Regions from separate parts of the Homo sapiens genome. Here region 2 is reported to be linked to region 1. The links are microRNA targets in miRTarBase. Many come from high-throughput screens and were not tested one by one. Region 1 holds a microRNA gene; the other region holds the end of a gene's coding sequence.

Evidence for each region. The annotated mature microRNA hsa-miR-4718 reads AGCUGUACCUGAAACCAAGCA and lies in region 1 at 3,076-3,096, opposite strand. An mRNA with a match to its seed (bases 2 to 7 or 8) in the 3' UTR can be bound and repressed. Matches are read on the target gene's strand: a 7mer-m8 pairs with bases 2 to 8, a 7mer-A1 pairs with bases 2 to 7 and ends in A, and an 8mer does both.
Region 2: miRTarBase lists TMEM64 as a target of hsa-miR-4718. Seed matches in the 3' UTR shown: 7mer-A1 at 712-718.

Annotation. Positions count from the first base shown.
Region 1 is chr16:12,719,013-12,723,416 of GRCh38, reverse strand. MIR4718 (microRNA 4718) reads right to left here and starts at 3,096; the gene lies at 3,046-3,096. All of the region lies in intron 2 of CPPED1 (calcineurin like phosphoesterase domain containing 1), which reads left to right.
Region 2 is chr8:90,621,885-90,626,288 of GRCh38, reverse strand. It overlaps TMEM64 (transmembrane protein 64), which reads left to right. Exons shown (of 3, transcript NM_001008495.4): 3 at 427-4,289. The coding sequence ends at 618. Among named protein-coding and RNA genes, the nearest start is that of LINC01030, 18 kb to the right of the region's middle.

The DNA of each region.
Region 1 (4,404 bases):
AACTTACTTACCTTGTTGGAGACCCCGTGTCCAGTTGCAGTCATATGATGAGGTACTGGGGTCAGGACTTCAAATAGGAATTTTCAGGGACATAGTTCATCCAGAACAGGCATATCCTGCCCATTGCAGCTTCACAGATTGCAGTAAGCCAGAAGTCACACCTGTAATTGCCTAAGGCTCGCCCACTGCTCTGTTAGGGGAAGAGGCTATAGAAGACAAAGGAATGACACCCTGTGTGCATGTGTATGTGTGCACTATATGTGTGCATTGTGTACATGCGTGTGCATGTGCGGTGTGTGTGCGCACATACGGAAGTTAGATGGGAGCCGGGTGGAGACGTTGCCGACCCTCCTGTTCTCATCAGAAAGCCTGGACTGATGAGGAAGGATTCTGAGAGAGCCCCGCTGATAACCCACTCCTGAAATAGGGGTGAGGAGAGTCAAGAAGTGGGTATCCCGATGTCTTCCTGTTAATTTCTGCCCTCAGCTCATTTCACATTAGACCAACCCACACACATCTACTGAGCATCTTTATTGTGCAATGAAAATACACTGGAGCCTGCATCTTACTGCACCACCCAGCCTTGGGGTCCGTGGGAAAGCCAGTGGCTAGAATCCCTGGGAGAAAGAAACCCCTGAAAGCCAGGGCAGGCTGAGGAAACTATGCTGGTGGGAAGGGATTTTTTTTTCTTGAGACAGGGCTTCATTCTGTCATCCAGGTTGGAGTCCAGTGGTGCAATGACAGCTCACTGCAGACTTGACCTCCCCAGGCTCAGGTGAGCCTCCTGCCTCACGCTGGGACTACAGGTGCACACCACCACACCTAACTAATTTTTGTATTTTTGTAGAGACAGGGTCTCGCCGTGTTGCCCAGGCTGGTCTGAACTCTGGGGCTCCAGCGATCCGCTTTCCTTGGCCTCCCAAAGTGCTGGGATTACAGGCGTGAGCCACCGCGCCCAGCTGGGAAAGGATTTGACAAAGTATGGCAGCAGTCTTTCCAGCAGGAAATTCTTCCTCATTGCAAACTGTCATTCGTCTGGCTGCCCTGCAGCCTGCCTCAGCTGGAGAAATCATTTGGTTTGCAACTAACTGCTCGGCATCTACTTACCTGAGGGCGATATTGATTTTGTTGTTCTTTTGGCTGCTGCTTATATTGAGCTGGGAAGTCCACTCGCTGCCACCCCGAATGAGTAAAAGGCTCCATTAGTGGCCTGTTACATCACCTGACTGTTTCTCCGCTTACTAAGGTTGTCCTGCTATTTAATTTAAAATTTTCCAGCAGTGGCTGAGTGTATCATCATCAGTTCTCCTTTGAGTTGCCGTGCCTTCAGGGAATAGGGATTAGCGAGGTCTTATTTTCTTTAACTAAGCAGCATCTTTTCTTGTCTGTTTGCCTCAGAGAACATTGGTTTGCTTGTTCTTGCTGGGAAAAAAAAACATTCTTACTAAGACAGTAAATGGATTCATAACACAGTTGAAGTCTATTCACAGAATCTGTTATTTAGACAACCTCCATAGCGGAGAGAAAATATTTTGAAGGTCTCAGAGGTGGTTGGTTTTTAAAAATTATTTGCTAGTAGAATCTTAGCAGCTCTGCATATTGCTGGCTGGGATGGTCTGGTTGTTATTTATTTATTTATTTATTTTGCCTTTTTTTTTTTTTTAAGACGGAATCTTGCTCTGTCACCCAGGCTAGAGTGCAGTGGTGTGATCTTGGCTCACTGCAACCTTCGTCTCCCAGGTTCAAGTGGATTCTCCCGCCACAGCCTCACAAGTAGCTGGGACTACAGGTGCCCGCTACCATGCCCGGCTAATTTTTTTATTTTTAGTAGGGACGAGGTTTCACCATGTTGGTCAGGCTGGTCTGGAACTCCTGACCTCAGGAGATGCGCCTGCCTCAGCCTCCCAAAGTGCTGGCATTACAGGCGTAAGCCATCCTGCCCAGCCCCGGCCTCCTTTTTTTGTATTTTTTCTCTACTCCTAGTTCCAGCAAGCAGAGGGGTGGTCTGGTTGAATGGGAAGGTCAACACTTGGGTTTGCCATTTGTTTCTCGTTCTGTCTGTTTTATAACCGGGTTATATTCCTTGGTACTTTGCAGCAGTTTCCTTCTTCTTTTACCCTCAGAGAGAAACACAAAATGTGTATCATCTTGATGTCTTGGGCTTGGCAGGTAAGTACTAAGTTTCCGTGGTATCTGCCTGTCTTTCTGATTGAGATGGACTTTCAGTGAAGCATAGTGGTCATTTTCCCTTCAGAAGATAGAGCCTTAATCTGAAAAAAATAATCGTGGTAACGTGGACACCTATGTTCTTGGAAATGAAGTCACTCCACCTGGGTTCCCAGTAAACGATAAATTGTAGTATATTAAAATCCTAAGAAAAGCTTTGTGGCCAAGAGCTCATCCTATCCATCTAGGGCTTTACCAGTGGCTTCTGAAATACTATGGCAACATGCCATTCATAGCCATCCTAGGGACATTCCAAATCTTGTTTACTTTTAGTCCCCCATGCCAAAACAGTTTAACTGAGGGATAAATGAATTGGGCATGGGATTTTTATCCTAATAACATATAATTTTGTTTATTTGTGTTGAGCTGTAAACTAAGCTTTGCACAGAATTTGTATAAAATAAAACAGTTTGGGCTGGGCACGATGGCGCACGCCTGTAATCCCAGCACTTTTGAAGGCCAAGACGGGCAGATCACCTGAGGTCAACCAGCCTGGCCAACATGGTGAAACCCTGTCTCCACTAAAAATACAAAAATTAGCCAAGTGTGGTGGTGCACACCTGTAGTACCAGATACTCAGGAGGCTGAGTCAGGAGAATCGCTTGAATCCAGGAGGCAGAGGTTTCAGTGAGCCAAGATTGCGCCAGTGCACTCCAGCCTGGGCAATAGAGCAAGACTCAGTCTCAAAATAAATAATAAATAAAATAATAAAACACTTTGTTAATATCAAAGGTAAAGGTACAGAAAACAAGAAGTTTCCTTCACTGAAGCACAAATCCTTTGGTGTGCGGGATTTGAACACCTCTTTAGGAAAAGCTTGCTAGTAACTGAAGCCAAGTCACAAACAGGTGCTTGGTTTCAGGTACAGCTACAAAGAACACAGAAGAGAAGCTGACACTTTTGTATTTTTAGGGCAAAGGCTTCTTTCTCCAAGGCTGAAAAAGGCCTGGTCCCACACTGCTCTGATTGATTTATCTGGGGTGCCATCTCCTGGGGAGAAAACCATTGCCACACACTCACCAAACCAAGAGCGTATCTCTCTCGGGAAGACAGGATCGGTGTGAAGGCATCTGTGCTCTCCTGTCTAGGCCTGTCCAGAACTATATGAAGTCATCCAGTTTTGTTCAGTTTTAATAATGGCCTGATAAAAACAGATAGGTGTGTGTGTATGTGTGTGTGTGTGTGCACATAGTGTAATGGACATATAATTAACGTACACGTATTTATATAGGTGTTTAAATTTTTTTTTTTTCTGTGATGGAGTTTTGCTCTTGTCGCCTAGGCTGGAGTACAGTGGCATGATCTCAGCTCACTGCAACCTCTGCCTCCTGGGTTCAAGCAATTCTCCTGCCTCACCCTCCAGAGTAGCTGGGACTTACAGGACTGTGCCACCACGCCCGGCTAATTTTTGTATTTTTAGTAGAGACAGGCTTTTGCCGTGTTGGCCAGGCTGGTCTTGAACTCCTGATCTCAGGTGATCCACATGCCTTGGCCTTCCAAAGTGCTGGGATTACAGGCGTGAGTGACCGCGCCTGGCCTAAAGGTGTTTAATTTTTAAGGTCATTTGTGCGTATGGAGGGAAAAATCAAATCCTATATATAGGTAAGGTATATAAGGACATGGTAAGTCAATCTTTCCGTCTTCGCTCCTGGAGACCACATCCAGTTTCTTGGGTATCTTTCCAAGAGACATTTCTAGGCATATTTGCATAATCCCCACGTGTCAAGGAGGTGGTGCTAGGTGGACATAATTGAATCATGGGGGCGGTTTCCTCCATACTGTTCTTTTTTTTTTTTTTTTGAGACGCAGTCTCGCTCTTTCGCCCAGGCCAGCATGCAGTGGCGCTATCTCGGCTCACTGCAAGCTCCGCCTCCTGGGTTCACGCCATTCTCCTGCCTCAGCTTCCCGAGTAGCTGGGACTACAGGCGCCCGCCACCGCACCTGGCTAATTTTTTGTGTTTTTAGTAGAGTCGGGGTTTCACCGTGTTAGCCAGGATGGTCTCGATCTCCTGACCTTGTGATCCGCCCACCTCAGCCTCCCAGTCCATACTGTTCTTATGGTAGTGAATAAGTCTCAGGAGATCTGATGGTTTTATAAGGGGTTTTTCCCTTTTCTCTTGGTTCTCATTCTCCCTTGCCTGCCGCCATGTAAGACATGCCTTTCACCTTCTGCCATGA
Region 2 (4,404 bases), not on the chromosome of region 1:
TCACTAAGTGGGCTTAGAAATACCTATGGACATTTATAGTCATGCAAAGGTATAATACTACATTAATTATACCAACAAAGTTTAGCCAGCTGTTACCTCTATTGTAGACATTTTTTATTCCTTGAAGAAAGCTTTTTGGTACAAAGAGACAGGTTTGGCTTGTATCAAGTGAACCAAAAGGAATGTGTGTTTTCCTAATACCATGTCATGGTTACCTGTAGACTTTGGTCCTCCACTACCAGGAGAAGCAGCAAAGGAAAGAATAAACAATAACTGTGTGTAAACTATTTAAAAATGTATAACCCTTTACCTACCATCTTTGAGAAGCACCCTGTTTGAAGCATTTCTAAGCCAAATATTTATTGGATTTATTTCTTTTTTTTGTATAAAATATTGATAACTGTAATGTTTTATTTTTATTCACAGATTATTATAAGTATAGGCCTCATGTTTTATGTAGTTCATCGAGCTCAAGTGGAATTGAATGCAGCTATTGTAGCTTGTGAAATGGAACTGAAATCTTCTCTGGTTAAAGGCAATCAACCAAATACCAGTGGCTCTTCATTCTACAACAAGAGGACCCTAACATTTTCTGGAGGTGGAATCAATGTTGTATGATTCTAATGAGATACGTGATTGTCAAGAGCCTAGTGTGCTATCTAAGGTCTAGCAGTCACTTCACTAGTGGGCAGAGACAAGTTCTAATTGTATTACAGCACAAACAAAACTGACTAGTTTTTAAATTGCACAATTTTTTTTTTTTAAAGCAAGAATCATTTTCTGGGTATGTAAGTGTAAATGTAGATGCAAATTTGGCTGCACCTCTTTATCATGCCTGTATTGGCCTATAGGTCTGCACTTTAGTGTTTTTTAATTGTTTTATTTCTGTGTATTTACGAACAGAGAAATAACCCAAATATTATTTCTGCTTAGTGTCTTTATTTATAAAGCCCATGAGTAGTTTGTATGCATCTTTCCTACTTGTAAAGATGAGTAAAAGTATGCAGTTTTAAATTTATAATATTATTGGATGTTCTTTGCTTTGGTAGTCTTTCCAGAAAGGATAAACAGTGGTTTTTGTTTTGTTTTGTTTTATTGTTTAAGTGGGACCACTTAGCTTCCCGTTTCCTTACTAGTTAAAGAACAGACATTAATTTTCAGTTGAATGTATTTTTGCAGGCATCATATTGTTACAGGGCCATTTACACCTATTCACAAAGCTTAAATCCTACCTTGTGGGACTGAAGTGCTCTTAATATAACTGTTTATTTTCACTGTGTAATATGCAAAGCAAAAGGGAAATTATTTGGTGGATGGTAGCTCAAAATTGGAACTCTTGTTCTAATTCAGTTACATTGGCTTTACCCTCCTTAGATTTTTCATCAAAGGGCTGTCCCATTGCAATCTTACTAAAACATTTTGTTAAAATAAACTCTTTTCCTTTTTATATTAATAATTAGGCTTTTAAATAAAGATGTTATTCCTTTAAAATGGTGGGCTTACCATCATTGAAGATGTCACTCAGGTGGCCTTGTTTGATCAAAACGCCTTTTTTAAAAACCAAGCTTTAAAAACATGTTTATAATTTCATGAAGTACATATATATTGTTCCCATAGTCTTCAGCTTTAAAACTATAAATATGCCCAAATTTTGTTATTTGCCCTACTTTAAGTAGGTTTATTGTGTTTGTTTTTTCAGTACTTGTTTTTCTCTGATAAGACTCAGGAATTCTGAAATGTGAAATTGTCTCAATTCTTTCTCTTGTAGCATGAATCAAATGTATTTATTAATAGCACTTATGACTATAGAATATAATTTGGCATATGATTCATATTACATATGTATTCGTTTTATTTTTAAAATAGTTTATAAACTTAATGATTTTTTTTTACAAATGAGGTTATAGATATTAATGCAAATTTTCTGGTAGGTATCTCTTTTTTTGCTATGATGATTCCAACTTATCAGAGACCTCCCATTTGCCTTTTCATTACGGTGAAAGCTTTGCCCTCATCTACTAAAGTACAAAGGAATTCTTTGGAAGCAGATTATTCTAGTCTTATGCTAGAGATGAATTTGATCATTTTAATGTGTGATCTTTTTGCTCTATCAGGTATAATTGTTTTCCTTTCCTTTATAATGGGTAAGTTTTCTCACCTTTGAGTAACAGTAAAGTTCATTTATATGTCCATACCTAGAAGACCAGTGCAAATACTTTGAGAGCACCTGGGTCTACAGGACATAATTGGCATCTAAATCCTCATTTCTTGCTATTAGTAGGAAAACAGATATAGTATTGTAATACCCTTATTCTTTTTGAATCCTAATTACTCATTTCGGTTTTTTTTCTCTCTTTTGAATCTAGTTGCTGGTTTTCGTTTAATGATTTTAGTTTAACAATCCCAACCAACAATACATTTGATTTATTTTTTTCTGTCTAACCTGACAACCTTTTTCTTGTGCTTCTTGTTTGTTGGTTAGTTTTTGTGAAAGGAATCATTGTTTAAGATCACTGTTTTCATACTTGTTTTACACTTCACGTATTTTGAAGTACATTTATTTACTAAGCATTTGTGACTTGAATAATTTCACCAAATGAATACATTTTGGTAGTTTGTAATGAGTTCTTCTAATTGTTACACTTTGCTTGGTACTTAACAATAAATATGTAAAGGTAAAAGAAATAATTTTCTGTATTCTGCCAATCTTAATTTTATATAATAAATCATCCATTTTTTTCTTAAAATAGTATGGATTGACTGTTTCTAAAATACCAATCTGTGGCTGTGGTTTTTCTTTTCTTCAGCATTTCCAGCATCCAAGTAAACAATAGTCCCTTATAGTCCTGCTACTTGATGGGTAAATTTGGTTGCTGGGTTTTTAAGTTGCACTCACAATAAATCGTGCAAAGCATTGTCATGCCTTATTTACTCCATTTTTAATCCTGCATCCCAGATTTATGGCAGCAACACATATCTACAGGATACTTTTATGTTGTCCAAATATTGCTGTCAGTCATATGTACTTATAAAATGTCTCCACTCATGTATATTTATAGAAATGAAATGTCAAATTTCTCAGACTGTTAAAGTGCAGTATAAAGTTGCTTAATGCACACTTAAAAATGATATATAATTTCTGAATCCTATGAAATATGTGTTCTTTTTTAATTCTTTGGGAGTTTTCTTAAGTTTTACATGTTTTTTGGTTTATTGTTAATGATTTTGTTTACTCTTTGCCAAATTTTGTCATGTAGGTTATTTTACAATAGCACCTTTAAAAAAAATGTATATGCTAATTTACTAAGCATATTCATGTCCATTTTTATTTGATCATCTGATTTGTGAAATAACTTGAAATTTGTACTGTTTGGTTTGTGAAAATAATATTACCAAATCTCTGTCATTAGAATGTGTACTTTATGTTCAGAAGTGACTGTGGGTTTATTCAGAGCCAGCCATTCTCTCCCTTGATGCACTTTGTAACCAGCTACACATGCTTTTAGGTGGCTTTTCCCTGATAGGGTCAAGTATATGACTATAAAACATTTTTCTTGTGAAGCTATTAAGTTCATTAGTTACTCTTATTTCCCCTTGTTGTAACTAAGTGGTGCAGGTATAAGCATATCCCCAGCATTCCTGTGTGTGTGAATGTGCACTGCTGATTTGGACTGTTCTTGAGAAAGGTGCTGTGACATATGTCAATATTTGTTAGCTCTGGGGATATCTTTAGAATGCTTGAGAAAGTTGCTAGGTGTGTGCCACATTGGTGCAGGTAAATCCATGCTGTTCACAGCCAAGCAGCATTTGCAGAGAAAAGGAGAGTTTTACATAGACCCCAGGAAAAACAGTACTAACCTGGTTGATGGCCTTGGTGGTGGAATTTTGTTTCAGCCAGAGGCTACTCATTATATCAGAATGATGTTCAGTATAACACTATCTGATTTTTAGATTGGTCGATTTCTGTTGTAATCAAGTATTTAGGATGTAATCTTTTTAAAGTCATTGCTTTAATCTGAAAAGCCATTAGAAGGGAGAGGAATCACTGTTCCACAGGATATTTAAAACTCAGGAGTTCAAATAACCTCACATATTGAACATAAACTGTTAACTTATTCCACAACTAAATTCTAACCTGATACTTATGAATTGCAAAGTGATTGCTGCAAACTTTTTCTAAGGTGGCTGAAGATTTAAAATAGATCATTCTAAAGGGAAATCAGTAAAATGTCTTGATAATTGGTATCCAAATCACTTGTGTGCCTGAGAAAATAAAAGGTAATATTTTACTTTCTTCTCGCTTTTCTTTCTTTGTCTTTATACTTTAATGCATGTAGAGAAAAGACCCTACATGTCATGTAGGGTGGATTCAGGGGATATCCTGAATCCCCTGAATCACTCCTT